Linked DNA regions of Homo sapiens. The protein of the gene in region 5 purifies or fractionates together with the protein of the main gene of each other region. This does not show direct contact. Each region holds a gene or a part of one and is shown on either strand. Other genes may lie near its edges. The genes, in order: TXNRD2, AADAT, CNN3, PKP2, ACOX1, PACSIN2 and TMEM171.

Evidence for each region.
Region 1: the proteins of ACOX1 (region 5) and TXNRD2 fractionate together in Homo sapiens (co-fractionation; one large-scale study listed by BioGRID). This does not show direct contact.
Region 2: the proteins of ACOX1 (region 5) and AADAT fractionate together in Homo sapiens (co-fractionation; one large-scale study listed by BioGRID). This does not show direct contact.
Region 3: the proteins of ACOX1 (region 5) and CNN3 purify together in Homo sapiens (co-immunoprecipitation; one large-scale study listed by IntAct). This does not show direct contact.
Region 4: the proteins of ACOX1 (region 5) and PKP2 purify together in Homo sapiens (co-immunoprecipitation; one large-scale study listed by IntAct). This does not show direct contact.
Region 6: the proteins of ACOX1 (region 5) and PACSIN2 fractionate together in Homo sapiens (co-fractionation; one large-scale study listed by BioGRID). This does not show direct contact.
Region 7: the proteins of ACOX1 (region 5) and TMEM171 purify together in Homo sapiens (co-immunoprecipitation; one large-scale study listed by IntAct). This does not show direct contact.

Annotation. Positions count from the first base shown.
Region 1 is NC_000022.11:19,931,402-19,935,466, forward strand, and holds part of TXNRD2 (thioredoxin reductase 2, mitochondrial isoform 5 precursor), read right to left. Parts: intron 2,330-4,065; exon of another isoform or gene 2,266-2,329; intron 2,126-2,265; exon of another isoform or gene 2,040-2,125; coding exon of another isoform or gene 2,033-2,039; intron 1,153-2,032; exon of another isoform or gene 969-1,152; coding exon of another isoform or gene 956-968; intron 1-955. UniProt on the Homo sapiens protein: Involved in the control of reactive oxygen species levels and the regulation of mitochondrial redox homeostasis. Maintains thioredoxin in a reduced state. May play a role in redox-regulated cell signaling.
Region 2 is NC_000004.12:170,076,278-170,080,342, forward strand, and holds part of AADAT (kynurenine/alpha-aminoadipate aminotransferase, mitochondrial), read right to left. Parts: intron 2,307-4,065; coding exon 2,232-2,306; intron 1-2,231. UniProt on the Homo sapiens protein: Transaminase with broad substrate specificity. Has transaminase activity towards aminoadipate, kynurenine, methionine and glutamate. Shows activity also towards tryptophan, aspartate and hydroxykynurenine.
Region 3 is NC_000001.11:94,906,169-94,910,233, reverse strand, and holds part of CNN3 (calponin-3), read left to right. Parts: intron 1-4,065. UniProt on the Homo sapiens protein: Thin filament-associated protein that is implicated in the regulation and modulation of smooth muscle contraction. It is capable of binding to actin, calmodulin and tropomyosin. The interaction of calponin with actin inhibits the actomyosin Mg-ATPase activity.
Region 4 is NC_000012.12:32,875,839-32,879,903, forward strand, and holds part of PKP2 (plakophilin-2), read right to left. Parts: intron 3,195-4,065; coding exon 3,082-3,194; intron 2,706-3,081; coding exon 2,008-2,705; intron 1-2,007. UniProt on the Homo sapiens protein: A component of desmosome cell-cell junctions which are required for positive regulation of cellular adhesion.
Region 5 is NC_000017.11:75,968,985-75,973,049, forward strand, and holds part of ACOX1 (peroxisomal acyl-coenzyme A oxidase 1), read right to left. Parts: intron 1-4,065. UniProt on the Homo sapiens protein: Involved in the initial and rate-limiting step of peroxisomal beta-oxidation of straight-chain saturated and unsaturated very-long-chain fatty acids.
Region 6 is NC_000022.11:42,889,285-42,893,349, forward strand, and holds part of PACSIN2 (protein kinase C and casein kinase substrate in neurons protein 2), read right to left. Parts: intron 1,899-4,065; coding exon 1,663-1,898; intron 1-1,662.
Region 7 is NC_000005.10:73,126,661-73,130,725, reverse strand, and holds part of TMEM171 (transmembrane protein 171), read right to left. Parts: intron 2,337-4,065; coding exon 2,195-2,336; intron 1-2,194.

The DNA.
Region 1 (4,065 bases), on a different chromosome or scaffold from region 5:
CTTTTTTATTCTATTTATTTTTGAGACAGGATCTCACTCTGTCACCCAGAAGATTGTAGTCCACTGCCCTGCTTGGGGGAGGGATGAAAGGTGAGAAGGAACACGGTCAGCACAGGGCTGGGACATAGACCCGGAAGGGCCCCCACGACAGGGGCACAGTGGCACAATCACAGCTCACTGCAGCCTCTACCTCTTGGGCTCAAGTGATCCTCTAGCCTCAGCCTCCAGAATAGCTGGGACTACAAGCACCGATCACCACGTCCAGCTAAATTTTTTTGTTTTGTAGAGATGGGGTCTGGCTATGTTGCCCAGGCTGGTCTCAAACACCTGGCCTCAAGCAATCCTTCCACCTTGGCCTCCCAAGGTGCTAGAATTACAAGCATGAGCCACCAAGGTGGACTAAAACATTCTCAAGTCCACGTGCCTTTCAGTTGTGAAGGCTGCCCTCCGTCACAAGTGAGCAAGAATAAAAGCACAGGCTAGGGGCGGTAGCTCACGCCTGTAATCCCAGCACTTTTGGAGGCCAAGGCGGGTGGATCACAAGGTTAGGAGATCGAGACCATCCTGGCTAACACAGTGAAACCCCGTCTCTACTAAAAATACAAAAAAATTAGCCGGGCATGGTGGTGGGCGCCTGTAGTCCCAGCTACTCGGGAGGCTGAGGCAGGAGAATGGCGTGAACCCGGGAGGCGGAGCTTGCAGTGAGCGGATACCACGCCACTGCACTCCAGCCTGGGAGACAGAGTGAGACTCCGTCTCAAAAAAAAAAAAAAAAAAAAGAATAAAAGCACAAGCAGCCCCTGTCCCTCACAGCTGGCCAGTGCACACAGCCAGGGTCTTGGTGTGCCCAGCTGCAGTCAGCTAGGAGGGAAGCCACCCTGGGCACAGGGAGAGCTGCCTGGGCTCAGGTTTCATCCCTGGAATTCCTTTTGGGCTGGTTGTGGTGTCGCCTCACCTTGGTCCTCCATGGTGGCTCACTGCACATAGTGCCACTCTCAGCCTTTTTAGCCTGCAAAAGGTGTCATCGTGTCTACTCTGCAAGCTACTGGCGAGGAAGGCAGGCAAGGGGCAGCCAAAAAAGGGAGGGATGGAGAAGGGACTGGAGGGAGGAAGTAGAGAGGGGAAGTACACTGAACTGGGCCTGAGGTCCGGGACACCCAGCACCAGGCACCAGCCAACTCCCTGCTGAAGGAAGGAAGAAATAATAGCAAGTCATCAGTCTGCTGGGGTGAGGGCAGGGTGGGGACTGATGACAAGACTCTAGGGTATAAAACAAGTAGTGCCCTCAGCCCCTCTGCAGACACGAGCCTGCCCAGATGAGAAGCACCACCCTCCCAGAGCATCTGGAGCCGGTCGCTGCTTCAGACAAGGCCAAGAGGTTCCATGATCAGAGCAGGGTCTGTCATACAAGGCTGGGCAACCTGCCCAACACCTCCATCAGAGCCTAGCGTCTGCCATGAGAAGGCTGCACTTATCTTTGCAGCCACCTCCACCTTCCTAGGCAGGCAAGGCTGCAGAGAGTGTACTTGGAGTGTCATGTCTCTCCACACCCTGGCCCTGCAGATGCCCCACAGACAGGTCTAGAACATGCACTCCTAAAGGATACAAGAGCTGGAGCCTAGAGGAGCCCTGGCTCACAGCTGAGAAAGCTTGGGAAGCTGCATCCAGGCACTCAGGCCATGGCCTGCAGCGAGCCTGCCCCACAACCAAACCCACCCACTCTTTCACCTGGCAGCCAGCCTCTGAGTGCACGTGAGATGTGTGCGCACCTGCGGGAACTGACAGAGCCACAACTCGGTTCCAACAGCCAGTCCAAAGCACACTCAATTCCTAATTCAACTCAAGGGCTCTGGAAAGGCCTAAATTGTTGTAAATTATTCTAATGGCTTTAATATAAGTCTAGAGAACCAAGGACTGCTGGTCAGGGAGAAAATGCCACCAGGTCCCCCGGGGAGCATGAACCTGCTGATGGAGAAGCATCTCTCTCCTCCAGCTGCCTGGTAGCCGGAAGCTTTGCTCAGAACGTCCCTACCTTCCATGGCAGGTGCCTGTCCTTCTTGTTGCCATAGCAGGGCCCTTGTTAGGTCATCCTGCCCTGCAGCCTCGCACTGTGCCCCCTCTGTCTGCTATCAGGCAGGGTGAGCAGCTGTCTGTATGGATGTGCTTATCTTGGGCAGCTTGCTCGCCCCCTGTGCACACCCAGGAGCCCTCTCGGGCTGATAAACACTGGCATAGGGCAGTCGTTTGCAAGCATAGGAAATCTGCCTTTAAGCACTTGGAAGGGCTTGGGTAGCCTGCTGGGAAGGAAGGACCCCAAAGTACCTCAAAGGTGGGTAGGGCAGATGCTGTTCTGTGGGAGGAAGGGCTGGGTGGCAGGCGTTACCTGGGGACACACCACCTGTGCACTCCAGTGTCCTGGAGAACCTCATAACCTTGCCTTTCACCCACTTTAGCCAGGCATACCCTCTCCACCTGCAGGGCTTGGCCCCAGCAAGTGTCTGTCTTGCCTCTGCCTTCTGACATATTGTCCATTAATTTTCTGCTCCTCTTTGAACCCACTGCCTGGTACAGGCCAGCAAAGAGCAGGAGCCCAGAGCTCATAGCAAGGCCCAAGAGAATGCAGCACTGCACCAGTGAGGGCAAGTGGAAGGGTCCCCCAAAATGTGCACCCACAGGCAGGCTGGCCACCTCAGGGTGCCACCTCAGGGGCCCTCCTGTATGGCTGCTCTATCTAGAGCTCTTTCCTGGCAGCAGGTGTTGTCATTCTGGCTCCTGTTCAGGGGCTGCATCGCCCACCCACTCCAAGCCTGGGACAGTTCAGGTCTTCCTACTCTAAAAGGAGAAACTGCAGGGCCCACAGTCCCAGCTACTAGGGAGGCTGAGGCTGGAGGGTGAGTTGAACCCAGGAGTTCAAGGCTGCAGTGAGCTATGATAGCACCACTGCACTCCAGCCTGGTTAACAGAGTGAGACTCTGTCTCAGAAAAAAAAAAAAAAAAAAACTGCACCCCTAGTCTGGGTACAGTGGCTCACACCTGTGTTGCAGGAAGTCAGGAACCCCGAATGGAGGGACTGGCTGGAGCCGTGGCAGAGGAACATAAATAGTGAAGATTTCATTTCAATATGAACATTTATCAATTCCCAAGTAATACTTTTATACTTTTTTCTTTTTTTTTTTTTTGAGGCAGATTCTCTCTCTGTCGCCCAGGCTGGGGTGCAGTGGCACAATCTCAGCTCACTGCAAGCTCCGCCTCCTGGGTTCACACCATTCTCCTGTCTCAGCCTCCTGAGTAGCTGGGACTACAGGCACCCGCCACCACACCTGGCTAATTTTTTGTACTTTCAGGAGAGACAGGGTTTCACCATGTTAGCCAGGATGGTCTTGATCTCCTCACCTTGTGATATGGCTGCCTCGGCCTCTCAAAGTGCTAGGATTACAGGCATGAGCCACCGCGCCTGGGCCCCCAAGTAATACTTTTATAATTTCTTATGCCTGTCTTTATCTCTTAATCCTGTTATCTTCATAAGCTGATAATATACATCACCTCAGGACCACTGTGATAATTGTGTTAACTGTAGAAATTGATTGTAAAACGTGTGTTTGAACAATATGAAATCAGCGCACCTTGAAAAAGAACAGAATAACAGTGATTTTTAGGGAACGAAGACAACCATAAGGTCTGACTGCCTGTGGGGTCAGGCAAAAAGAGCCATATTTTTCTTCTTGCAGAGAGCTTATAAATGGACGTGCAAGTAGGAGAGATATCGCTAAATTCTTTTCCTAGCAAGGAATATTACTATTAAGACCCTGGAAAAGGAATGCATTCCTGGGGGGAGGTCTGTAAACGGCCACTCTGGGAGTGTCTGTCTTATGCGGTTGAGATAAGGACTGAAATACGCCCTGGTCTCCTGCAGTACCCTCAGGCTTATTAGGGTGGGGAAAAAACTCCGTCCTGGTAAATTTGTGGTCAGACTGGTTCTCTGCTCTTAAACCATGTTTTCCGTTGTTTAAGATGTTTATCAAGACAATATGTGCACAGCTGAACATAGACCCTTATCAGGAGTTC
Region 2 (4,065 bases), on a different chromosome or scaffold from region 5:
GTGAGGTAGTATCTCACAGTAGTTTTGATTTGCTTTTCTCTATTTAAAAAAATTTTTTCCCCAAGCCTGAGTCTTGCCAAATAATCAGACTGCAGGTACAGCAGTCACACATTGTAGAGTACTAACCACTACACGATCATGGAACTTGCGGCTTTCATACGTTGATTTATGTTGCTTTGCATTTCTCTACTAATGATGTTGAGCATCTTTTATGTGCTTATTGGCCTTCTGCACATGTTCTTCAGACTAATGTCTATTTAAGTCCTTTGTCCATTTTTAAATTGGGTTGTTTATCTTTCTGTTGTTGAGTTGTAGGAGTTCTTTATATGTTCTGGTTATTAAAGGTTTATCAGATATATTATGATAAATATTTTCTCCCACTGTATAGACTCTTTTTTCACTGTTTTCATAATGTCCTTTGATACACAACCACTTTTAAATCTTCAAGTTCAATTTATCTATTTTTGTGGTTGTCGTTGCTCATATTTTTGGTCATATCTAAAAAATCCACCAAATCTAAGGTCATAAAAATTTGCCCTTATGTCCTAAGTGTTTGTAGTTTTAGCCCTTATATTTAGGTCTTTGATCCATTTTGAGTTAAATTTTCATATGGTGTGAAGTAAGGGTCCAAGTTCTTTTATATGCATGTGGAAATCCAGTTGTCCCAGCACCACAGTTGAAGAGACTATCCTTTCCCCCACTGAATGATCTTGGCACCCTTACTGAAATCAACTGGATTTGTGGGTTTATTTCTGGATGCTCAGTTCTATTCTATTGGTCTATATGATTGTCTTTATGCCAGTACCACATTGTTTGATTACTGCAGCTTTGCAGTTTTGAAATTGGGAAGTGGGGGTCTTCCAAATTTGTTCTTTTTCAAGATTATTTTGGCTATTTAGGTCCTTTAAACTCACATCAATTTGAGGACTGGCTTTTCCATTTCTACAAAAAAGGCTGTTGGCATATCGATAGGGATTGTATTGAATCTGTAAATTGCTTAGGGTAGTATTAATATCTTAACAATATTAAGTCTTCCAATCTATGAACTGTGGAAGTCTTTCCATTTATTTGAGTTTTGCTTAATTTCTTTCAGCAAAATTTTTCAGTTTTTAATGTACAAGTCTTCCACCTCCTTTGTTAGATTTATTCCTACGTATTTTATTCTTTTGGATGCTATTACAAATGGAATTGTTTTATATATTGCTTTATATGTTGATTTTCATAAAAATAAAATAAAATTTGAAAAAAATAAAAGGATCCATGAAGTTGGAATCAATAGAGCATAAAAGTCATCGCATTGAATTCCCCTACTCTAAGCTAGAATTACTTTAGCCATATTTGTGTTAGGTGGCAGTCAAGAGTGACTGAGCACCTACAGTGATGGGCAATGTTGTAACCCATTATGAAGTCCGGTAAGGCCAATGGTTAGCAAGTTCTTATACAGAGCTGAAATTGTTTCCCTGTGGTTCCAGTTCTATTAACCTAAGGTCATGTACAAATAAATCTAATTCTTTTGTCACATGGCTAACTTCTATGTATTTGAGGACAGTTTTCATGCCTCTGTTGAGTCTTTTCTTTCTGGGGAAAATAGCTCCAGTTCCTACAACCATTCATCATATGATATGGCTTCCAATTCCCTATTTACTCTGACTATCTTTCTCTGAGTATGCTCCAGTTGTGGACATTTCTGTCTTAAAGTAGACTGCCCCAAACAAACCTAATGCTCAGCAATGTGCTCTGACCAGTGCAGAGCAGAGTCAGATCATCAGCTTCCTCATTCTGTAAATCACAGTTCCACGGATCTAACCTTGGAATGGAAAGTCGTCATTATACCATATAAGTATACTAAACTGACATATAACATAGTTGTACTTATGCATATGGTAATAAGATAGTAATAAAAAATAAATTTTTGTAATTTAAGTTACATTTCAAGTAAAATATTAAGAGAATTGGACATGATTTTGCATAATCTAATTTTAATGCCTATACACTTGGATTTCAAAAAAGAAATGTATAAAGAAGAGAATACATTTCACATACTTTGTATATATCCTTTAAGATTATCCTGCTTATGGATAAAATATGCTATTTCATTTTTCTGTGGACAGATTATTTTAAAGTTAATAAGATATTAACTTTATTATAATAAAGTTATTATAAAACCTTTATTATAAGTTTTCTTCTTATTTACTACAAGAGAGTTGCCTTTAGTAAAAATGTATACTCACACTTTGAAGAGTTCCTGAATAAGCAGGTTCATCTAGGAGGACATTATCTCCAGGATTAATGATCATTTCAAACACCTAACAAAAGAAGCATAGGTTAGCTTGTTAGTCAGCATAGGTTAGTACTGTTTCCATGCTCAGAAGCCCATTTTTTAGTTTGAGCTCACATGGTTCTAGAGTAAGAATTAGCAAATTGTTTATAAGGGGCCAAACAGTAAACACTTTGCGGGTCATAGTATCTCTGTTGCAACTACCCTGCAACTACTCTGCCTCTATAGTGAAAAAGTAGCCATAGACAATATATAAATGAATGGGTGTGACTGAGTTCCAATAAAACTTTATTTACAAAATTTGATGAAGGGCTGGATTTGGCTCTCAAACCATAGTTTGCCAACTCCTGTTCCAGAGAAAGGTGAACAGAGGTTTGGCTGCTAACATTCATTTATTCCTTTTATTGCTTCTTTGAAAATCTATTAAATGTTTACTATACGCCAGGCCTGTGTAAAGTGTCAGAGATAAAATAGCAAAATGACATGGTTCTTACTCTCATGGAGCTACTGGTCCACTGGGAAAGCTAGACACCAATTAAATAACTACCCAATAAATGTGCAAATTAAAAACGGTGGTGAGTGATATTAAGTACAGATGCACAATGACATAAGAGCTCATTGTAGGAAGACCTAGGCATTCAGGGAATTCAGGGAAGGCATCCTGGAGGAAGCGATGAGTTGGTGTACGGGGTAACAACAGTTAGATTTGAAAAACCAAAATAATTATGTGTCTTGAGGCAGAATGTAGAGAAAAGAGTGGTGTGACATCAGACAGAAGTGGGCAGAGACCAACCATGTAGGCATTTGAGCCAAGGGAGGCAAGTAAGGATTTTAGGAAGAGAGTGGGGAGGAGGAGTCACATGATTAGATACTCGTCTTGAAAAGATCAATCTGGCTGCAGTATGAAAGAATGAAAGAAGGGTGAGAATACATGTGGAAAGTTTAGAAAGTTTTTAGGATTGTTTGGGAAGTTACTGCCACAGGCCTGGAACAGGTAAGGGTCATCTTAAAGTAGAGTGGTGACAGAGGAATTGTAGAGAAGAACTGAGAGGTATTAGGAAATGAAAAGTAATGGAACATGATTATGGACAATAGGGAAATGAGGAAGAGGAGGTGTCAAGAATGATGCCTAGATACTTGGTTATGGAACTAGATAGATGGTGGGGGTGGTGCCATTCACTGAAACACATAACCAAAAAGCCATCCATATCTGAGTGACAGGATGATTTGTTTTAGTGTGAGGTGCCTTTGAAACACCCTGTGATGATGTCAGATGGATAGATGGACAAATGGATTTGGAAGGAGCCTGGAAGTTACTGGCATATGGTTGATCATGTGAATGTAAATGAAGATACCCAGGAAAAGTACATAGACTAAGGAGAGATGTTTAAGGACTGAGCTACAGGGAACTCCAATAAATAATGGCTGGGTAGAGGAGGACACTGCAAGGAAGGGAGGGAAAGTGGGCTGGAGGAGAACCACACAACATGCTACTGAGAGAGCTAGAGGAGGACAGTGTTTTCAAAAGGGTGGGGGAGACTTCCAGTTCCAAAATGGTGGTGTAGAAGCAAGTTGACTTCATTCCCTCCCACAAAACCACTAACAAATATACAGTGCTAAAATTTACACCAGAAACAACCCAGAACTCAAATATGAGGATGAGTCAGTTCCTAGGACTACAGAGAAGTGAAAAAACTCTGAACAGATGGTAAGAAAGGCATACTTCAGCATCTATGATACCCCTCCTCCCAATTCTGCCTGGCACCAAGCACGTGGAAAAACTCCCC
Region 3 (4,065 bases), on a different chromosome or scaffold from region 5:
GAAGATGAAAGAAGAATCTAAGGAACACACGGAACACTTGAAAAACAGAAGCTAATGTTGAATACGAGTTTACTTAGAGAGTTTGGAGTAATGCAGGATTATCCTGGTGGCTCAAAACGGGGAGCCACAGCTGAAATTAGGGAGACTGTTGTAATCACTGGGGACAATAACCAGGAATTGTCTGCTTCCAGGTTTGAACAAGCTCTGTGATGATAATACATTGTGAGAAGGAATCCATGTGAAAAACAAGCAGTCTTCATTCTTCAGTAGATTCTGGAATGTCCTGGGTGTAATGGGGGCATCAGACAGTTCTTGTACATGAATGTCATCACTCTACCTCATGGCAGATGTGCCCCCATCTTTTTTTCAAATGGTACTTGAGCTGAATGCTCTCGGCGTACACCGAGAAGTACCATTCAACAGCGCAGGAATCGAGCTTTTGGGTCAGCTGTGGAGGTGCTTTTTGAAGCTAGGTCTCCCTTTACTCTTTCTCCCTTTCTGAGGGTTCTTAGGGGGAAGCTTCTCAAATTTCAGAGCCAGGGAGGGGCATGGCTGTTTCCCAGCAGCTGGTAGGCTTGTATCTGCTCTAGTGTCTGCCTTCACTGTTAGGACACATAGGCCCTCGGGGTTGTGTTTCTGAAGGTGGTCTTAGTCCAGAGCTCTTGGATATATGATTAATAGTGATATGTGATATGTGTGCCTGTGGGCTGGAAGAATAATTGGCTGAAGGATAGGCCCTTCCCTCTGGGAATGGAGTGTGATTTGTGGGGGGAGAGACTTGTACATTTTAGTGTTATCTCAGTGTTTCTTAACCTTGTTTTCATGATCACCTTCTCCAAGAGTTGTTTTAGACATTGTTCCTAGTTACCTCCTATCCCTTGCTAGATTTAGTACAAAGGAATAAGATTTTGTTGGGTAGAGTTGAGCTTTGGAGGGTCCCAAGTTTTTGTATTGTCTTAAGATTTTTTTCACCATTGGTAGAAACCACCACAAGAAACACTTTTCACCTCTTTGGGACACCACCACCCCTGTTGAGAATGCATGCGCTACATACTTGTATATCATTTATTTGTTTATTTTTGTTTTAAAGACAGAGTCTCACTTTGCCACCCAGGCTGTAGTGCAGTGACATGATTATCAGTCACTGCAACCTGGAACTCCTGGCTTCAAGCAATCCTCCTGCCTTGGCCTCCCAAAGTGCTAGGATTACAGGCATGAGCCACCCACCTGGCCTATTTTTTTTTTTTTTTTTTTAAAGAGACGGGCTCCCTATATTGCCCTGGCTGGTCTCGAACTCCTGGGCTCAAGGATTCCTCCTGCCTCAGCCTCCCAAAGTTGCAGGATTACAGGCCTGAGCCACCATGCCTGGCCCAGCCTAATTTTTTTAAAAAAATTATTATTTTGGAATTGGCTGGGCGTAATCCCAGCACTTTGGGAGGCTGAGGTGGGCGGATCACCTGAAGTCAGGAGTTCAAGACCAGCCTGACCAACATGGCGAAACCCCATCTCTACTAAAAATACAAAAATTAGCTGGGTGTGGTGGTGGGCACCTGTAATCCCAACTACTCAGGAGGTTGAGGCAGGAGAATCGCTTGAACCCGGGAGGTGGAGGTTGCAGTGGGCCAAGATCACGCTATGGCACTCCAGCTTGGGTGACAGAGCGAGACTCCGTCTCAAAAAAACAAACAAACAACAACAAAAAACCAATTATTATTTTAGAATTACAAAAGAAAGTGAGGGCTAAAGAAAGGTCATGAAACAAGAAAGGACTGATCTGCATTTGAACTGAAGGGTGACTCCACACTGGTGCTCTTAGCTGTCCTGAGGAGAGAGCCAAGGGAAGCTCTAAGGGCTGAAGCCGCCACCACGACCACAACAGGATGAGCCCTGGACCCAGGCACAGGAACATGAAGAGGAGCAGGTGAAGCTGTCGGAGGAGCGAGAGCAGAGCAGGCCAATCGCTGAATGTAGGGAGGAGGATCAGCTGTATCCTATGCCCTAGGAGGCTTTTTTCTTGGTCTTCATTATCTTCACATGTTGATTGTATCTGGCTAGAGGGATGTTGGAGAGTTTCGGGGAGGAGTCTCCAGCAGGTGTGCCTAGACAGTATTCTCCTCGGTCTCTGGATCATTTGTAAGTGCTCCTTGATGCAAAGAAGGCTGTCAGGCACTGCTTGGAGAATGTGTGCGTGTTTAAGAAAGGAAGGTGGGCATATAAAGAGAGGGGCTGCTGTGGATTTGAAAGAGCCAGGCAGAAAGTCTGCGAAAGCAGCTTGGGAAGGCCAAGAAAATAAATCTTGAAGAAGAATAAAGAAAAGGATGTTTATCAACAACTTGGAAGAGTAATTTTTATTTTATTTTTATTTCTTATTTTTGAGACGGAGTCTTGCTCTGTTGCCCAGGCTGCAGTGCAGTGGCACCATCTCAGCTCACTGCAAGCCCCGCCTCCCGGGTTCACACCATTCTCCTGCCTCAGCCTCCCAAGTAGCTGGGACTACAGGCGCCCGCCACCACACCCGTCTAATTTTTTGTATTTTTAGCAGAGACAGGGTTTCACCGTGTTAGCCAGGATGGTCTTGATCTCCTGACCTCACGATCTGCCCACCTTGGCCTCCCAGAATGCTGGGATTACAGGCGTGAGCCACTGCGCCCTGTCAGGAAGAGTAATTTTTAAGTAAATTAGAGTGAAATTTCCATGAAGTATTAATGAGGTAAGTTTAAGCAATTATTTTAAGCTAACTTTCTTTTGTTGAGAGAAAGAAAATGTCAGCGTTTTTCTGCCAGATGTTGAGAAATTAAAGCTTTTTAGATGAAGATAGTAAATCATTTTTATTGGCCAAAGATTACTTTTTTAAATTGCTCTCAGTTCCTTGATTTTAAAAGATAATGCTGTTTAGCTGGCCTGACTGCATAAAGCTCACTTACTAGAAAAATATTCGAAGTATTTGGATAGGAGAATCCTGTTGCTCCTTTACTTAAAGGAAACCCTTAGCCCACACCAACAGTTATTTGATGTGGCTGCATTCCTAGTCTTAATTTTTAATTGATCATATGGGGCTTTGAGTTTTGCATGCTTGTACATACGAATTTCTTCTGTGCACGTGGTCATATGGTAAGTCTCAAGGACAGCATCACCTGTCCAGAGCTCCCCCCCACAACCACTCATTGGTAGAGCCAGGATTTGAACTGAGGTCCATCTGACTCCAGTGCTTGATTTTTCTATCTCATCACTTCCTTGACAAGAACTGTCAACAGAGAAGGTGAAAACTTCTTACTGGGATCTACTAGGATATTTCAAGTTAGGTCTGTAGTCACTTCGTGGTTTGGGGCATGGCACCAAATCTGTTGGACACATTTTGAACAAAGGATGCATAAATATGCTTTTAATGTTTTTCTGCTTAAATATTAATTGATGTCATTTGGTATGAGAATTACCATCACCATCCTGTGAAATATCCCAAACTACTCTAACATAATTTTTCTCTACATTTGAAGAAACGAGAAAATACTTCTTCAGTTTTTTATTATTTGACCAAATTGTGTAGATAGCTGAGAGTAGGAACGGACCTAGTGCAGGCATCCAGTTTAGACTTCCTCTTGGATCGAGAGAAGTTAGAGGAACTAACCCAGGCCCATAGCAAAGATAGATGGAGCCAGGCATGGCGCCAAGGCAGAACTCCTCTCACCCTAGCATATTATGTTTTTCTTCAGATTGATCAAAATATATCTCCTAGTTGAGAACGCCCTCACTTTTGGGGAAAAAAAAAATCACCTTACAATTAGTATTTGCTTTCCATAGTTAATGCTTGAGGAGTACTCTTTTCTCCTTTTCTTCTTTGCCTATCCCCTTTCATACCACCACCTCCAGTTTATATAGTGAGAATTTATTTTTCTAGGCACCCAGAACAAGACCCCAGTGTAAAAATATAGTCAAGACTTAAACGTGTCTATCGGCTGGACGCAGTGGCTCACGCCTTTAATCTCAGCACTTTGGGAGGCCGAGGCAGGCGGATCACCTGAGGTCAGGAGTTCGAGACCAGGCTGGCCAACATGGTGAAACCCCGTC
Region 4 (4,065 bases), on a different chromosome or scaffold from region 5:
AGGATATACTGAGTGTGAAATTTCCAGGAGGTTGTTACATTTTCATATAGGTCCAGAATTTGGCATCAAGGATGGAATTGCAGACAAAACTTTGAGAACCATAAGGATAAAAGTGAGGTACACAGAGCCTCTCTGGAAGAGCATCAAGACTTGGAATAGAAGGGTTACTGAAGATGCCTTCTTTGAGCAGGCAGAAAGGGAGCACGCAGAGAACACTAACAAAGAATGGCTGGAGAGGTGAGTGGAAAACCAGGGGAAGCTGGTGCCCTGAAAACCAAGGGATGAGAGAATTTCATGGTGTCTCAAACACCACCCACAGGTTGAGTAATATAAGCAGTGCTTATATTACTCAATATAGTGTCTGCTTAGGATGTAGCAGATAAGGCCATCATTGCTACATTTGTCAGGAGACTGTTTAGGTGGAATGGAGGGGACTGAAATCATATTGCAGTGGGTTGACGAGAGACTGGGAAGTGACAGGGTGGTTCAAGAAGCAAGGGACACAGAGATGGAGGGAGAGAATGCCAGTTGTTGGAGGATGTCAGATAATAATTTTGTTACTGTTAAAATCATTTTGCTAAAACTGTGGCTATCACAAATCCTAGGCTATGGTAGGCATTCCATAAATTTTGAATTACCTGTTTAAAAGCCTTTATCAGCTTTTTCCTCCATAAACAATGACCTGATACACTTTCTCTTTTTTTTTTTGAGACAAGGTCTCACTGTGTTCCCCAGGCTGGAGTGCAGTGGCACAAATCTTGGCTCACTGCAACCTCCATCTCCTGGGCTCAAGTAATCCTCCCGCCTCAGCCTCTCGAGTAGTTAGGACCACACGTGCACACAACCACACCCAGCTAATATTTGTATTGCTCGTAGATATGGGGTTTCATCATGTTGCCCAGGCTGGTCTTGAACTCCTAAACTCAAGTGATTCGCTCGCCTGGGCATCCCAAAGTGCTGGGATTACAGGCCTGGGCCACTGCTCCCGGCTTATTTTTCCTCTTTGTAAGTATGCTCATATTGCCTAAGGTCTGCTTACTATAAGAAATGTTAGAAATCTCATGGTGAATTTTACATCATAAAAAATATTTCCTGTGTTAAGATTAGATTAGCCCTCATCATTTTGAGAAGTAGTTTATTAATGATGCTACCTGGTCAGTGAGCATGCTGTACAATTTCACTTGAAGGGATGTTTAGAGGTAACAACTATCATTAGACAACTTTAGCAATCAAATGACAATAACATATCTAATGTTTTAGCCTAATGATGTTAGATCATTATTGCAGGAGTTACTGATCTAATCAGCCATCCATTTCTCAATCTTTCTCTTAGTAACGTGCACAGTTTATAAAATTTGTGATCAGGCATTAAACTTGAATAAGGGTTAAGTTCCAAACACTAAATTAGTCAAGCTATAAAGTAAATAGGAATGGAAAGGAATGACTTAAAAATTCAGTTATTTTAATAATTTAATACTGCCAAAAGAATACCCCTTCAAATCACTGACACTAGAAATCTAAAAGGTACCAAGTACCAAAGGAAGAAAAAAGACATCTAGAAGTCAGCCATCTTTCCTTAGCTCTTTTTACAGTCATAGTTATCCAAATGGCATTCGTGCTAAGAATAAGCATTTTTTCCTTTTATTTCATGGGATGATGAAGAAAATACGCATGCAATTCTCCAATTCTTGGCCTACTTTGGAGTTTAGAGCAGATTTTCATATGGCTGAGGGGTAGGGTCCCTTCAGCCAGCATCTAATCTGGAACAGATGGACTAAATGTCACATTTCCATACAAAGCTGCCATGTGAGCAGGTAGCTTGGCCCCTGTCCCTGAGGTAAATAGGCTGATCTGTCAATTAGGCAGCTGCCTGAAAAGTCATTATTTTAATCACTTATCTCTGGAAGCCCTTCTCTCAAGCCCCAGAAGTGCCAGCTCATGCTGTCAGGGCTGTGGGAACAGAATGTGCTGGCAATGACTGAACTGCAGAGTCAGGAGGGGACTTACCCCAGCTGGGAGTCAGTGAAAGTGCTTCTCTCAGTGAGCAGATTCCCACTTCCCCCTGCGGCCGCCTGGCCGACAGTCAAGTGCGCTCTCCTCCCGCTGGAATCCACGGCGACACTGGGCCCAGCTTCCCTCAGCGTGCGGGTGCTGTGGAAGGAGCTCTGATGCCAGGAGGACCTGGAAGCCCTGTTCTGAGTGACGGGCTGCAGGGGCACCAGCGGCCTGACCTGCCCGACAGTGAGCCCTGCCGTCAGGTAGTTCTCCTTCTCCAAGAGGTTGCCCATGCTGCGGCTGGTCCCTGGCCTGGGGTACGTGAGCAGGGCCGGGTTGGCAGGGATGCTGTCAAAAACGGTGTCGCTAACAGAGCCATGCTGGTACTGTCTGTGGTATGTGTCAAAGTGGCGCTGCCTGCTTGTGGTGCCAGCACGGCTGACCCCCACGATCTCGGAACGAGCATATCTCGGTGGCACTAGGAGGGCGGCCCGCCTGCTTTCTTGGTGGTGCAGGGTGTGCCCAGCCTGGCTTCTCTGGCTGTACTGGTAATCGCTGTGCGTGTAGTGAGCCCTCTCCGGGCTGCTGTCAGGAGAAATCTCCAGTCTCCTCAGAGGATGCCTCAAGGACCTTTCTTCCACGGACTTCTGGGAGCTGTACTGTGCTGTTCCTCTTCCCCAGCGACCTTCATAAGTGGCAGTTGTGCCAGCCTGCACATGAGAGAAATAAAGTTTAAAGGGGGCATAAATCAAATTTCAACTTTGCTGAGGACTAATTACTCTGGGACTATTACCCAACATGTCCGTTTCTCTGAATCAGATGACGAGAAGTTTGCCCCTTTCTGGGTAAAGGCTTTTTGAAAATAAGACTTGGTTGACTTGAGTCATATTTATTTGCACTAGGATGTAAGAATGTTTCACATCCCTAGTTTTCCATGGTATCCTCATAAATATCAATTTTCTCAAAACTCATTTAGGAAATGATAATACTTGGGAAAAGTAAACACTCAAAAATAATCTTAGGAAGTTTGAAAATATTTTCATGGTAGTAATCTGATCACTAGGGTTACATTCTTTGATATCCTACCTTTAGCATGTCATAGGTTTTAGGAACAGGGGAACGGCCTCCAACAAAATCATTTTCAACCAAGTGTAGGTTGTAGACATACTCAGGAACACTGCTGGTTCGGTGAAGATTTCCTGCAATCAAGCAAATATTAAAATAACTCAGAATACAAGTAGGCTAATTAATATTTACAGACTGTATAACAATGATGTATTAAACTTTTAAATTTAAGTAATGAAGGCCAAGAACAAGTATTAAACGTACGTTAATGTTTTTAAATGCTAGTTTCACACCACCCTGGGATATGGCAAGTGATCAAAGGTTATCAAAACATTCTCTACAAAAGTTTTTCAGCTGGGTGTGGTGGCGCACGCCTCTTATCCCAGCACTCTGGGAGGCAGAGGCAGGTGGATCACCTGAGGTCAGGAGTTCAAGACCAGCCTGGCCAACATGGCGAAACCCATCTCTACTAAACATACAAAAATTAGCTGGGCATAGTGGCGGGCATCTGTAATCCCAGCTACTCAGGAGGCTGAGGCAGGAGAATCACTTGAACTCGGGAGACAGAGGTTGCAGTGAGCCAAGATCACACAATTGCACTCCAGCCTGGGCAACAAAAGTGAAACTCTGTCTCAAAAAGAAAGTTTTGGCTGGGCACGGTGGCTTACACCTGTAATCCCAGAACTTTGAGAGGCAGAGGTGGGTGGATCACCCGAGGTCAGGCATTCAAGAGCAGCCTGGCCAACATGGTGAAAGCCCCTCTCTACTAAAACTACAAAAAATTAGCTGTGCGTGGTGGCAGGCACCTGTAATCCCAACTATTCGGGAGGCTGTGGCAGGAGAATCGCTTGAACCCAGGAGGTGGAGGTTGCAGTGAAGCTGAGATTGCGCCATTGCACTACAGCCTGAGCAACAAGAGTGAAACTCTGTCTCAAAAAAAAAAAAAAAAAGTTTTCAAAATGAAAGTTGAATTTAAAAAAAGAAAAAGAAGGGAGAGGAAATTCA
Region 5 (4,065 bases):
AGCTGTGGAAATACAGGTACAGAGCTTGCTCAATATATTGTCAACTGGTTCTGTGTTTCAGGAAAAGCCTCAAACTATGCAGCAAAAGCTCTAAAATGCTCATGTCCCTCAATATAGTAATTCATTTCTGAGAGGTATTCCAGAAGTATGACCCCAAAGAATACAGCGTCTTATTTATTTATTTATTTATTTATTTTTTGAGACGGAGTCTCACTGTTGTTACCCAGGCTAGAGCGCAATGGCGCAATCTCAGCTCACCACAACTTCCACCTCCCAGGTTCAAAAGCTTCTCCTGCCTCAGCCTCCCTAGTAGCTGGGATTACAGGCACGCACCATCACACCCAGGTAATTTTGTATTTTTAGTACGGACGGGGTTTCTCCATGTTGGTCAGGCTGGTCTCGAACTCCCGACCTCAGGTGATCCACCCACGCTGGCCTCCCAAAGTGCTGGGATTACAGGCGTGAGCCACCGTGCCTGGCCAGAACACAGCTTTCATAAAGTTTATATTATTATCACTAATATTGGTGAAATTTAGCCCAAATCCCCAGGGAAGCAAGTCTCATGAGAAGTCCAACAGGGAAGAGAATCACTTGGGCAGAGGGAAGAGGAGACTGTTAAGCCTAGGGAGAGAGGGCAACGGAGTGCGGTAAAGACTGATGACTTAAAAATCAAGTTTACTACCTCTTTCCAGTTTCAAAGAAAGGTGCATTATTTCATATTTAAGTGTTAATGATGGCAATTTGCCAGGATACTGCATCAGCTTCAAGGATAACTATGTATCATACAATCTCTATATTCCTAAATAGATGGTAATACGAAACAAGGCAATGTGACCCCAGTCCATGGGTGAGGAATAAAGAAAGAAAGGAACGAAAGGAATGGAGGAAGGGAAGAAGACAGAAAGAGAGCGAGAAAGAGGCCGGGTGCAGTGGCTTACACTTCTAATCCCAGCACTTTGGGAGGCCGAGGTGGGCAGATCGCCTGAGGTCAGGAGTTCAAGACCAGCCTGGCCAACATGGTGAAACCCTGTCTCTACTAAAAATATAAATATTAGCCAGGTATGGTGGTGCACACCTGTGATCCCAGCTACTCAGGAGGCTGAGGCAGGAGAATCACTTCAACCAGGGGGAGGTGGAGGTTGCAGTGAGCCGAGATTGTACCATTGCACCACTCCAGCTTGGGCAACATGAGACTCCTTCAAAAAAAAAAAAAAAAAGAGGAAGGAAGGAAGGAAGTGAGCAAGCAAGCAAACAAGGAAAACAAAGCAAGAAGAATCTCCAGAAATGGCCACATCTTGAAATGATTACATATCTGTGAAGAGCAAACAAACGACCTGTTTTGTGGCCTAAAGAAACATATGGTCAGGATGATAACATGGACCCAGTTCCCCAGGCTGTTCCTTTGATCCCAGAACTCCAGGGAGGTGAGCCTATCACCCAGGTTCAGGCCTCTGCCTTTGATTATGGCTCCCAGACCCACAGGGCAGGTGTATATCCGAGTTTCTTCGTGTCCTTAGAGGAAAGAAGACACACTCTAGAAAGAAGGATAATGCTGGTGACTGAGACTTTCTGTAGGTGACTGAATTTTAGGATTTGGAAGGAACATGGAGTGAACCTGAATACTTCTGAGCCCCTTCACTTCTCAGCAGCTACCCAGAAGTGAAAGAATCCCAAACCCAAAGTTACAGCTACTTCTGTGAGACCGCGTTAGATAATCACTGTTCACTGTTGATCCATTTTCCAAAGTCTCAGAATTTAAATAGTTAGATCTCATTCTATATAAGCTGCTCTATTGCCGATCTCCTGGACGTTGACTTTTTGTGTATTCCATATAAGATAAAACCGTCACGTGATGCAAATTAACCAACCTGACTTATTTCCAAGGAAAAGATCAGTCATCAACCAAGAACAGCAATATGAATTAGCAAAATTCCAGCAAGAAAAAAGACTAATCTTAGGACACTGTTCTCTAAACCACAGAGATTAAGACAACGTTGGTTTAAATACAAGAAAATACCCAAAACTAGCTGGGCATGATGGCTCACGCCTATAATCCCAGCACTTTGGGAGGCCGAGGCGGGCAGATCACCTAAGGTCGGGAGTTCGAGACCAGCCTGACCAACATGGAGAAACCCCGTCTCTACTGAAAATACAAAATTAGCCGGGCATGGTGGCACACGCCTCTAATCCCAGCTACTAGGGAGGGAGAGGCAGGAGAATCACTTGAACCTGGGAGGCGGAGGTTGCGGGGAGCCGAGATCGCGCCATTGCACTCCAGCCTGGGCAACAAGAGCAAAACTCTGTCTCAAAAAAAAAAAAAAAAATACCCAAAACTAAAAGCAATAAGGGAACGAAAACTCTAACAAATGCAAACTTGCCCACAGCCATATAGGATCTCTGTCCAACTTCTGTTTGCCTCAAACCAGTATAGTTCAAGTCTTCCTTTCTTCCTCTCTCCTTTCAAAAATTAGGGCAGGCCGGGCGTGGTGACTCACACCTGTAATCCCAGCACTTTGGGAGGCTGAGACAGGTGGATCACCTGAGGTAAGGAGTTTGAGACCAGCCTGGCCAAAATGGCCAAACCCCATCTCTACTAAAAATAACAAAATTAGCCGGGCATGGTGGCAGGTGCCTGTAATCCCAGCTACTCAGGAGGCTGAGGCAGGAGAATCCCTTGAACCCAGGAGGTGGAGGTTGCAGTGAGCTGAGATCACTCCACTGCACTTCAGCCTGGGGCACAGGATGAGACTCTGACTCAAAAAAAAAAAAAAAAATTAGGGCAAATATATATTTGTGATATTACTTTATAAATGAGGCAGAAGCATTAGACCAACAAGAGGTAAGAGGTATACTTAACAAATCCATTAGCCTCAGACTATTTCACATCTTATGCCTCCTATGAACAGCATGACTGTTAAGTCGAATAAATTCTATAATGATGAATACTGAAACAGAGTTCTGTACCACAAAGCTACTTCAAAATTACAACACACACACACACCACGCATGCATGTACACAAACACACAGATACTCCAAGCGAGGAGGACTACATAAAGAATCTTATCTCTCAGGCCGGGTGCAGTGGCTCATGCCTTGTAATCCCAGGACTTTGGGAGGGCAGATCACGAGGTCAGGAGATCAAGACCATCCTGGCTTACACGGTGAAACCCCGTCTCTACTAAAATACAAAAAATTAGCCGGGCGTGGTGGCGGGCACCTGTAGTCCCAGCTACTGAGGAGCTGAGGCAGGAGAATGGCGTGAACCCAGGAGGCGGAGCTTGCACCGAGCCGAGATGGCACAACTGCACTCCAGCCTGGGCGACAGAGTGAGACTCTGTCTCCAAAAAAAAAAAAAAAAAGGAAGGATCTGTCAGCCAGGCGCGGTGGCTCACGCCTGTAGCCTGTAATCCCAGCACTTTGGGAAGCCAAGGTGGACAGATCACCTGAGGTCAGGAGTTAAAGACCAGCCTGGCCAACATGGAGAAACCACGTCTCTACTAAAAATACAAAATCAGCCGGGCGTGGTGGTGAGCACCTGTAATTCCAGCTACTCGGGAGGCTCGGGCAGGAGAGTCACTTGAACCCAGAGGCGGAGGTTGCAGTGAGCTGAGATCATGCCATTGCACTCCAGCCTGGGCAAAAAAAGCAAAACTCTGTCTCAAAAAAAAAAAAAAAAAAAAGAATCTTATCTTCCTTTACAAACCTTTCTTTCAGGCTTATAATTTCAGTACTGACCATCTTGAAGTTGAAGTCTTGAGTGTTTAGTAAAGTGTCTGGAACATCAAACCATGACCAGAAAGCTGCAGTACCCATGGAGATGACAATAAATAACATTTTCCTTAAACCAATTCACACACTGAAATCAGCAATCAAACACAAAATGATGTTTCCCTGATATCTGCATCCCTTTTTCTTTCCCTTTCTTTACTCCTGCCATTTTGATAATTAGACATGAGGCTGGGCAGTTCAAATTCCAAACACTCAAACCTGCCAATGGCCTTGTCTATGAAAACAAACCTATTTCACATTAAGATCAAAAGCAAAACTTTTTGAAGGAAGCCAGA
Region 6 (4,065 bases), on a different chromosome or scaffold from region 5:
AAGTTCCAAGGAGGAACCCAGCATGAGAGAGAGGACCATACTAGGGGGCAGGGCCATCAGCCACATTTCCTCTGGTTTTAATGGTTTTTACACACACACACACACACACACACACTCTTAACAGATCCTTCCTTATTTGAGCCAAAGCCACAAATTTCATTCTAGAGGGAAGGAGGAGTTTATTAGCAAAGGCCTCATGAGACACAGACAGTTTCATTATGAATGGGGCCAGGGACAAAACAGAAGAGAAAGGAGATGTGACAAAAGCTAAGACACAGAGAAAAGGAGACACAGAGAAAACCATCCGGAAGGACAGAGGCATGTTCTGGATGATTCTGAGGCGGAGGAAGGCAGCGCAAGGCCAGAGAACATCTGGGTGTTGGGGGTGGCACATCTACCGTCTACTCCATTCCAGCTAGGAATGGGGGGCGAGGCTGCAGGCAGGGGCGGGGCACACAAGCTGAGGGCTGGGGTGGACAGATGACAGCCTCCAACTAGCCAAGGCTCGACAAAACTCAATGGCTTTGGTTGCTACTTTTAGAAAAACAGGTATCAATGTTTGAAATTTTGGGATAAAAACCTATGCAAGAGAAAGAAAAATGTAAACTAGTTCTTTCTATCGTCAAAGGGACTTGAAAAAAAAATAAAGTGAAAGCAAGTTTATTGAGAAAGTAAAGGAATAAAGAAAGGCTACTGCACACGCAGAGCAGCCAAAGGGACTTTTTTTTTTTTTTTTGAGACAGAGTCTCCCTCTGTCACCAGGCTGGAGTGCAGTGGCGTGATCTCAGCTCACTGCAACTTCCACCTCCTGGGTTCAAGTGATTCTCCTCCCTCAGCCTCCTGAGTAGCTGGAACTACAGGTGCCCGCCACCACGCCCTGCTAATTTTTGTACTTTTAGTAGAGATGGGGTTTCATCATGTTGGCCAGGATGGTCTCAATCTCCTGACCTCGTGATCCGCCTGCCTCAGCCTCCCAAAGTGCTGGGATTACAGGCGTGAGCCACCGCGCCCGGCAAGGACTTTTAAGTCTCCAGCAGACACTTCCCCAGGGTTGGGAGAAGTACTGTTAGTGGTTAAGAGCTTGGGCTTTGAGCTCTACCACCAATGTATGGTTCTGATCCTCAGTTACCAAATCTGTAAAATGTGTTGGTAGGATCAAATTTAAAGAATGCCCTGTAATTCCAGCACTTTGGGAGGCCAAGGTGGGTGGATCACCTGAGGTCAAGAGTTCGAGACCAGCCTGGCCAACATGGTGAAACCCCGTCTCTACTAAAAATACAAAAATTAGCAGGGTGTGGTGGCATGTGCCGGTAGTCCCAGCTACTCGGAGGGCTGAGGCAGAATTGCTTGAACCCAGGAGGCACAGGTTGCAGTGAGCTGAGATTGCACCACTGCACTCCAGCCTGGGAGAGAGAGTGAGACTTTGTCTCAAAAAATAAAAATAAAAAATTTAAAGAATGCACATAGAGCATTCAGCATCTTCAACCTGGGTAAATGTCAACTACCATGGGCTTCTAGCCTGAGGAGTGGCTTCATCTCTACCAGGTCTGGCCTCCTGTGCCTACAGCCAGTGGCAGGAAGTCCTAGGTGCAGGAGGTGGTGCTGCTAGTGGGGTGCCAGGCAGAGCAAGGCCGGGCAGGGAAGCCTGCAGGACAGATGTACCTCTTTCAGCTTCTTGGCCCAGGGCTTCTGTGCCTTCCGAAAGCCGTCCTCAGCTTCCTTGGTCTCCTTGAAGCCGCCCATCATCTGCTTGTGAAAGGCTTCCTTCTGCCAGTTCTTGATCTTCTCGAAGTCATCGTTCATCAGTGAGGCCTTCACCTCGAGGTGCAGCTCGCTCACCCTCTCTGCCTCGGACATGAAGGCCATCCAGGCCTTCTCCACGGTCCCGTACTGGGGCCCTGTGCAGGGGAGAGAAGCTGCGGGTCACTCAGCGCCGGCCATGGTGGGGTCTGCTCTGCTCACACCTCGGCTGTTCAATGTGGCCATTTAGACCACAGAGGGTTTCCTTTCAGGGTTTCAGATATTTTTCTCTCAGGGACTCTGTGCCTTTTTCAGTTCCCAAAGCTGAATTTGCTCTGCCCCTCGTGTTAGGAAAATTGGGGGATTACATGCCTTTCCTTTATTTTTATTTTTGGGATGGAGTTTCGCTCTTATTGTCCCGGCTGGAGTGCAGAGACGTGATCTTGGCTCACTGCAAACTCTGTCTCCCAGGTTCAAGAGATTCTCCTGCCTCAGCCTCCCGAGTAGCTGGGATTACAGGTGCCCGCCACCACGCCTGGCTAAATTTTTGTATTTTTAGTAGAGACGGGGTTTCACCATGTTGGCCAGGCTGGCTGATCTCGAACTCCTGACCTCAGGTGATCCATTCGCCTCGGCCTCCCAAAGTGCAGGGATTACAGGCGTGAGCCACCGCGCCCGGCCATGCCTTTCCTTTATTTAAAGCCACTGAACTCTATAAAAACTCAAATTTCCACATCTTAGAAGTCTTAATTTACTTAAAGGTGGCCAGAGAAGGGGGGACCTTCTGAAGTGAGCAGATGCTTCTCCCAGGTGTTGGGCACCCACCCACACCATGCCAACGCTTCTCCTGGCATGGCTCCTATCAGCCCTGCTTGGCCCCTGGCTAGCCCTGCACTGCCTTCCTCTGCAGGACTGTGTTCATTCACTCCCAGAAAGAGCCTGGCTCTGAGCACAAGCTTGAGAACACTGTGGAATGAGGACTGTCCCCTCAGCAGAATGGAAGCCCATCCTGCAGGAGGAAGGAGAGGAGGAAGCAGGAGCCTGCTCTGGACCAGTATGGCAGGAGGGGCTGAGTCGCCTCTCCCTACTCACTGTTCTCAGTCCCCGAGGCTCAGGAAGGAAGCCCTAATCCAGGCTGGCATTTCTATTCAGGGGGTAGGGTGGGGTGGCGTGAGGCTGGAGGGAGGGAGAGCCACAACGGAGCCGGGGCAGAAATCGAGAAGATCCATGGCTGGTCTTCAAGGTGGTCACAGGGACAGTGACCAAGTGCGCTGAGTCATGACAGAGGTGGGCTGAGGGGAGGGCAGGCTGTGAGAACCCAGAGGGGGACACGTGACTCTGGGGCTTGGAGACAACAGAGAACAGCCCCGGAAGTTGGACCTCTCTGTGCCTTCGTGTCTACAAAATGAGCACATTCCTGTCCTGTCCACAACGTTACAGCCAGACCCACAAGGTGAGGGTGGTAAGGGTGCTCTGTAAACCTCAAGCTCTGACTGACAGCTTGATCCTGGGAGAGGGGCTGCAGCAGGTGGAAACGAAATGACGACACTGCCACCGACCAAGGGAGCTGACCTATCCTAGGCCCCTCCTCTGCCACGTGCCTGCTCCACAGCCTGGGCACATACCCTGCCCTAAGGACTGTGCTAAGCCCACACAAACAACCCATGTCAGCATCACGGGAAAGGACAGGCAGCTGGACTAGACCTGGCTTGCTTGGGACCTGGCTCCCCTGATTGGCTGAGGACAGCTGGGGCTGAGGACAGCTGGTCAGCACAGGAAAGCCTGCCCCAAAACACACCTTGAGAAACCCACACTGCTCTGCTTCTGTGCCGGAAAGGCTGTAATCAGTCAAGTTCCCCTTCCCTGCTGGGAAGTGTGTTCTAAGCATGGCCCCTGTCCACACAACAGTGGCACTAATAAAGCTACAGAATCTTCTGAGCTTTTCGGTGGGGACAGAAGGGGGTGAAACCTCTGCCATACAACACCTGTAATTATTCCCTTAAAATGTAAACTCAGAAAGACTGCCAGGTGTTGCCAGCTAGTCTTATCTGACCTGCTACATGGCCAAGTTTAAAAATAAACAGCTCTCAGTGTTAGAAACTAAGGTGCCAAGCGGCAAGGCCTTCCACGTGATAGGAACTTACCCGAGTTCTGAGTTAACTCGGCAAGTGCAAGTGTGTCCTATGGATGACAAGGGCTATAGTCCTGTGTCCCCAAGGAAAGTGGACAAAAGCTCATGGAGCCTGTGCCTTCTGGTGATGGGCGCTAATGCTCCCCATAAAAATCACACCCCGCTCTGGAACTGGGAAATGCACTCTTGCCCCA
Region 7 (4,065 bases), on a different chromosome or scaffold from region 5:
CCCCATCACGACCCCATATGAAGCTGTAAAGCCAATTCTGTCCTTGTCAGCCACCTCTTTCCCTCTCCCATCAGATAACCTGTCCCCCTGCTTTTGTGGGAAAAGAATCTCTACACAACTTCATTCCCTCCAGGCCCCAGAGAAAAGGCACCCTGGCCCCTGCTCCAAGGCCCACTGCCTGCTCTGTCAAGGCAGGGTGGAGAGGGAGTTCCTTAAACACGAATAACAAGGTAAGGTGGTGCTATCCCCAGCAATGAGCACCAGTCTCTCTGTGCCTGCTGCTCACTGCATGCAAAAATGCACATATCTCATTGTCTTACCTGCTTCACCCTGTGACAATGTGAAGCAATTCTTCCTTCCCTTCCTAAACCCTGGTTTCCCATTCTAGAAGGTACCACCAGAGCCTTCTCCAGCCCTGCTCCCTGAGCACACCATTTCTGGGGTATGCACAAGCCCCTCCTGGGGGTCTCCCACTAGTCCCTGACTCTTTGCCCTTCTGGTTCTCCAACAACCTCTGCAGCTCCATCTCCATCACCTCCTCTCTCTCCCAAAACCCAGCCCTTCCCAGTCTGCCTCCAAGGCCCTCATCTCACTGTACCGCCACCATCAGCCGCCCACCATCCTTTCCCCACCGAAACCAAGCTCATCACTCACGTCTTCTCAGTTGGGGACCTCTGAGCTTCCCTGTCACTCACCCTGGAACTCATCATCTTCGCCTCTTCCTCAATGTCATTCTCCATCCAGACCCCCTCCCCCAGGCTCCTGGCACCTCAGGCCCGTCCCACTAGAGCCTGCCTCGCTGCATTCTGTGTGGGGTGGGTATTGACCTGATATTCTCTGCGGCCCAGGGAAGGAGCGAATATTGAAGGAGAGGCCCAGTTGTGTTGGATCGGGGCTCAGGCTGACTTTAGCCAGTCACCCAAGCACGGCCATCAGAGTACTAAAGCCCTTCTGTAACTGTTGGGGATCCCCTGAGACCCTCACACCTCTCCATGATCTAAAGCAGTGAAGCCTAGCATAGCAGGGGCCTCCTGGCCCAGTCCTGGTGCTCAGTCTGATTGGTGGGTCATTAAACATTCTTTTTTTTCCCCCTGAGATAGAGTCTCTCTCTGTTGCCCAGGCTGGAGTGCAGTGGCGCGATCTCGGCTTGGAGCAGAAGAATAGGGTGTGGAGGCAGGGAATCTACGGCCGTTTCACGCTGACTTCCTAGAACTAAATTGAAAGGAAAACCCTAACTTTCCACCCCTGAGTAACAAAAGGACCAAAGACTACTCCCTTTGCAAACACCCACCTTTCGGCAGATGGGAAATTGAAAGTGCCTCTAATTGGTTGCTTTTTGCAACCAATCAGACATTTGCATAGGACAACAACTTTGTAACTTCACTTCAGCCTCTGATTGGCTGCTTTCTGCAACCAATCAGACGGATTGTGGGCCACCACTTCATTTACATGAGGTGAACACAAAGTGGCCAATGGGAAACCTCTAGGGGTGATTTGGACCCAAGAAGATTCTGGAACTGGGCCCTTGAGCAGCTGTTCAGGCTTGCTCCCACCCTGTGGAGTGTACTTCCATTTTCAATAAAATTTTGCTTTTGTTGCTTCATTCTTTCCTTGCTTCGTTTGTGCATTTTGTCCAGTTCTTTGTTCAAAACACAAAGTACGTGGACACCCTCCGCCGGTAACAGGCTCACTGCAACCTCTGTCTCTTGCGTTCAATCGATCCTCATGCCTCAGCCTCCCGAGTAGCTAGGATTACAGGTGCCTACCACCATCCCCAGCTAATTCTTCTATTTTTCGTAGAGACAGGGTTTTGCCACGTTGGCCAGGCTGGTCTCAAACTCCTAAGCTCAAGTGATCCACTCACCTTGGCCTCTCAAAATGCTGGGATTACAGGTGTGAGCCACAGCACCCGGCAAGGGTTGTTAAACATTCTGAGTATCACCCCTGTTAGGAGCACATAAAGATAGATGCCTGGAGTAGGCTTCATATTAACCCAGCATGATCACTTTATCATTTTTAACTTATGTGCTGCCCAAATTTCGGCAAAGGTACTGTTAATATCAAGACACTAATTCTGACATAACATCAGCAAAAAAGATACTCACACTTGAATGCCTCCTGGTGAACCACACAGCCTTAATACTAGTGTGGCCTGAATTCAGGCCTCTCTTGAAGTTCAAATTGAAATTCTTACCCATAGTTGAAAATACTGTAATATGAAGGGGGGTTTTCATTCGGAAGCAGACTGTTAGTTCCAGGACTCTCAGCGACCGCAGAAGCTGAAGATTCAGGAAAGTAAGGTGGTGGAGGGGGTGGAAATATTATTACCGAGTCACCTAAGGCAAAACAATATTTAGTTGACAACAGGTGGGTAATAAATGGAAGCAAATTAGCAAAAGCAAAATTAATTATATATTTGGCCCATCTATATAAAAGGTCAACACACCTGCTGCTAACTCCAAAATTTAAAAGTAAGCCCATTAAATGTATAGAGATAGAAAAGTAGACTAGGTTACCAGGGGCTAGGAGGGGTTCGGGAGGAGGAAGGGAGTGGGAATTGCTGTTTGGTGAGTACAGAGTTGCTGTTGGGGATAATGGAAGAGTTCCAGAAATTGATGATGATAATGGTTGAACAACATTGTGACTGTATTCAATGCCACTAAACCATTTAAAAACGGTTTGGCTGGGTGCAGTGGCTCACACCTATAATCCCACCACTTCGGGAAGCTGAGGAGGAAGGATCGCTTGAGCCCAGGAGTTGGAGACCAGCCTGGGCAACACAGCGCTATCTCATCTCAAAAAAATTAAAAGAAAAAATTTAGCCAGATGTGGGAGTACACGCCTGCAGTCCCAGCTACTCGGAAGGCTGAGATAGGAGGACTGCTTGAGCCCAGGAGTTCTAGGCTGCAGTGAACTATGATTGTACCACTGCACTCCAGCCTGGGTGACAGAGCAAGACCCTGTCTTAAAAAAAAAAAAAAAGCCAGGCGTGGTGGCTCACGCCTGTAATCCCAGCATTTTGGAAGGCCGAAGCGGGTGGATCACTTGAGGTCAGGAGTTCAAGACCAGCCTGGCCAACACGGCGAAACCCTGTCTCTACTAAAAATACAAAGAAAAAACAATCAGGCAGGCGTGGTGGCAGGCGCCTGTAATCCCAGCTATTCGGGAGGCTGAGGCAGGAGAATTGCTTGAACCCGGGAGGCAGAGGTTGTGGTGAGCCAGGATCATGCCACTGCACTCCAGCCTGGGTGACAGAGTGAGATTCTGTTTCAAAACAAAACAAAACGAAACAAAAAGCAGTTTAAATTGTTTATGCTTTATATATATATATATATATATATTTTTTTTTTTTTTTTACCACAAATTTTTTAAAAGTAGGCCTACATTTCAGAATCCAGAGTGCTGACAATTATGGTATGAAAGCAGGTCTATATTTTGTAGCAAGTCTAAGACCAAGCCTTTTTGTGAATTGTTTGCTAACAAGCTCCTTTCCCTCCTCTGGGGTGTCTACTGCTGAAAAAGCTTTTCTCGTTTTCAGCCTACAACTTTAATTCACAAGTTAGCTGTTGGCTAAAGTGCCTTGTTCCTCAAATGTAGTTTCAGCCCCTGAGCAAATGACAGTAAGCCATATTACAGCCCCTAACTGTTATTTACCAAAATTTCACCCATACAGATGAAGGTTGAACCCAAAGAAGTTTGGTTTTTGCATTTCTGTGGCTACTGTTCACTCCAGAATACATCCTCATGTTTTGAGGAGAAACTAGGGACCAGATGCAAACTCTAATTTGTATTCCGATTCCAATATAAAATGCACCACACAAGTGGACCAGAACAGTGTAGAGCTCTGGCAGCACCACTGCTGGGGGCCTGGTGAAAGCCTCTGAGAAGCTGGCAATAGCAATAACAGTTCAGAAAAAATGAAGAAGATGGGGCTTTACTTCCCTGTAGTGGTTCACACTCCTAGCATGTCTGATGCTTGCTTAGGGTGGCATAGGATTCTTTAAAGTGATGGGGGTTCCAACCTGAACAAGCTAGGCGACCTCCTTGACCTCAGCCGCCACAGCT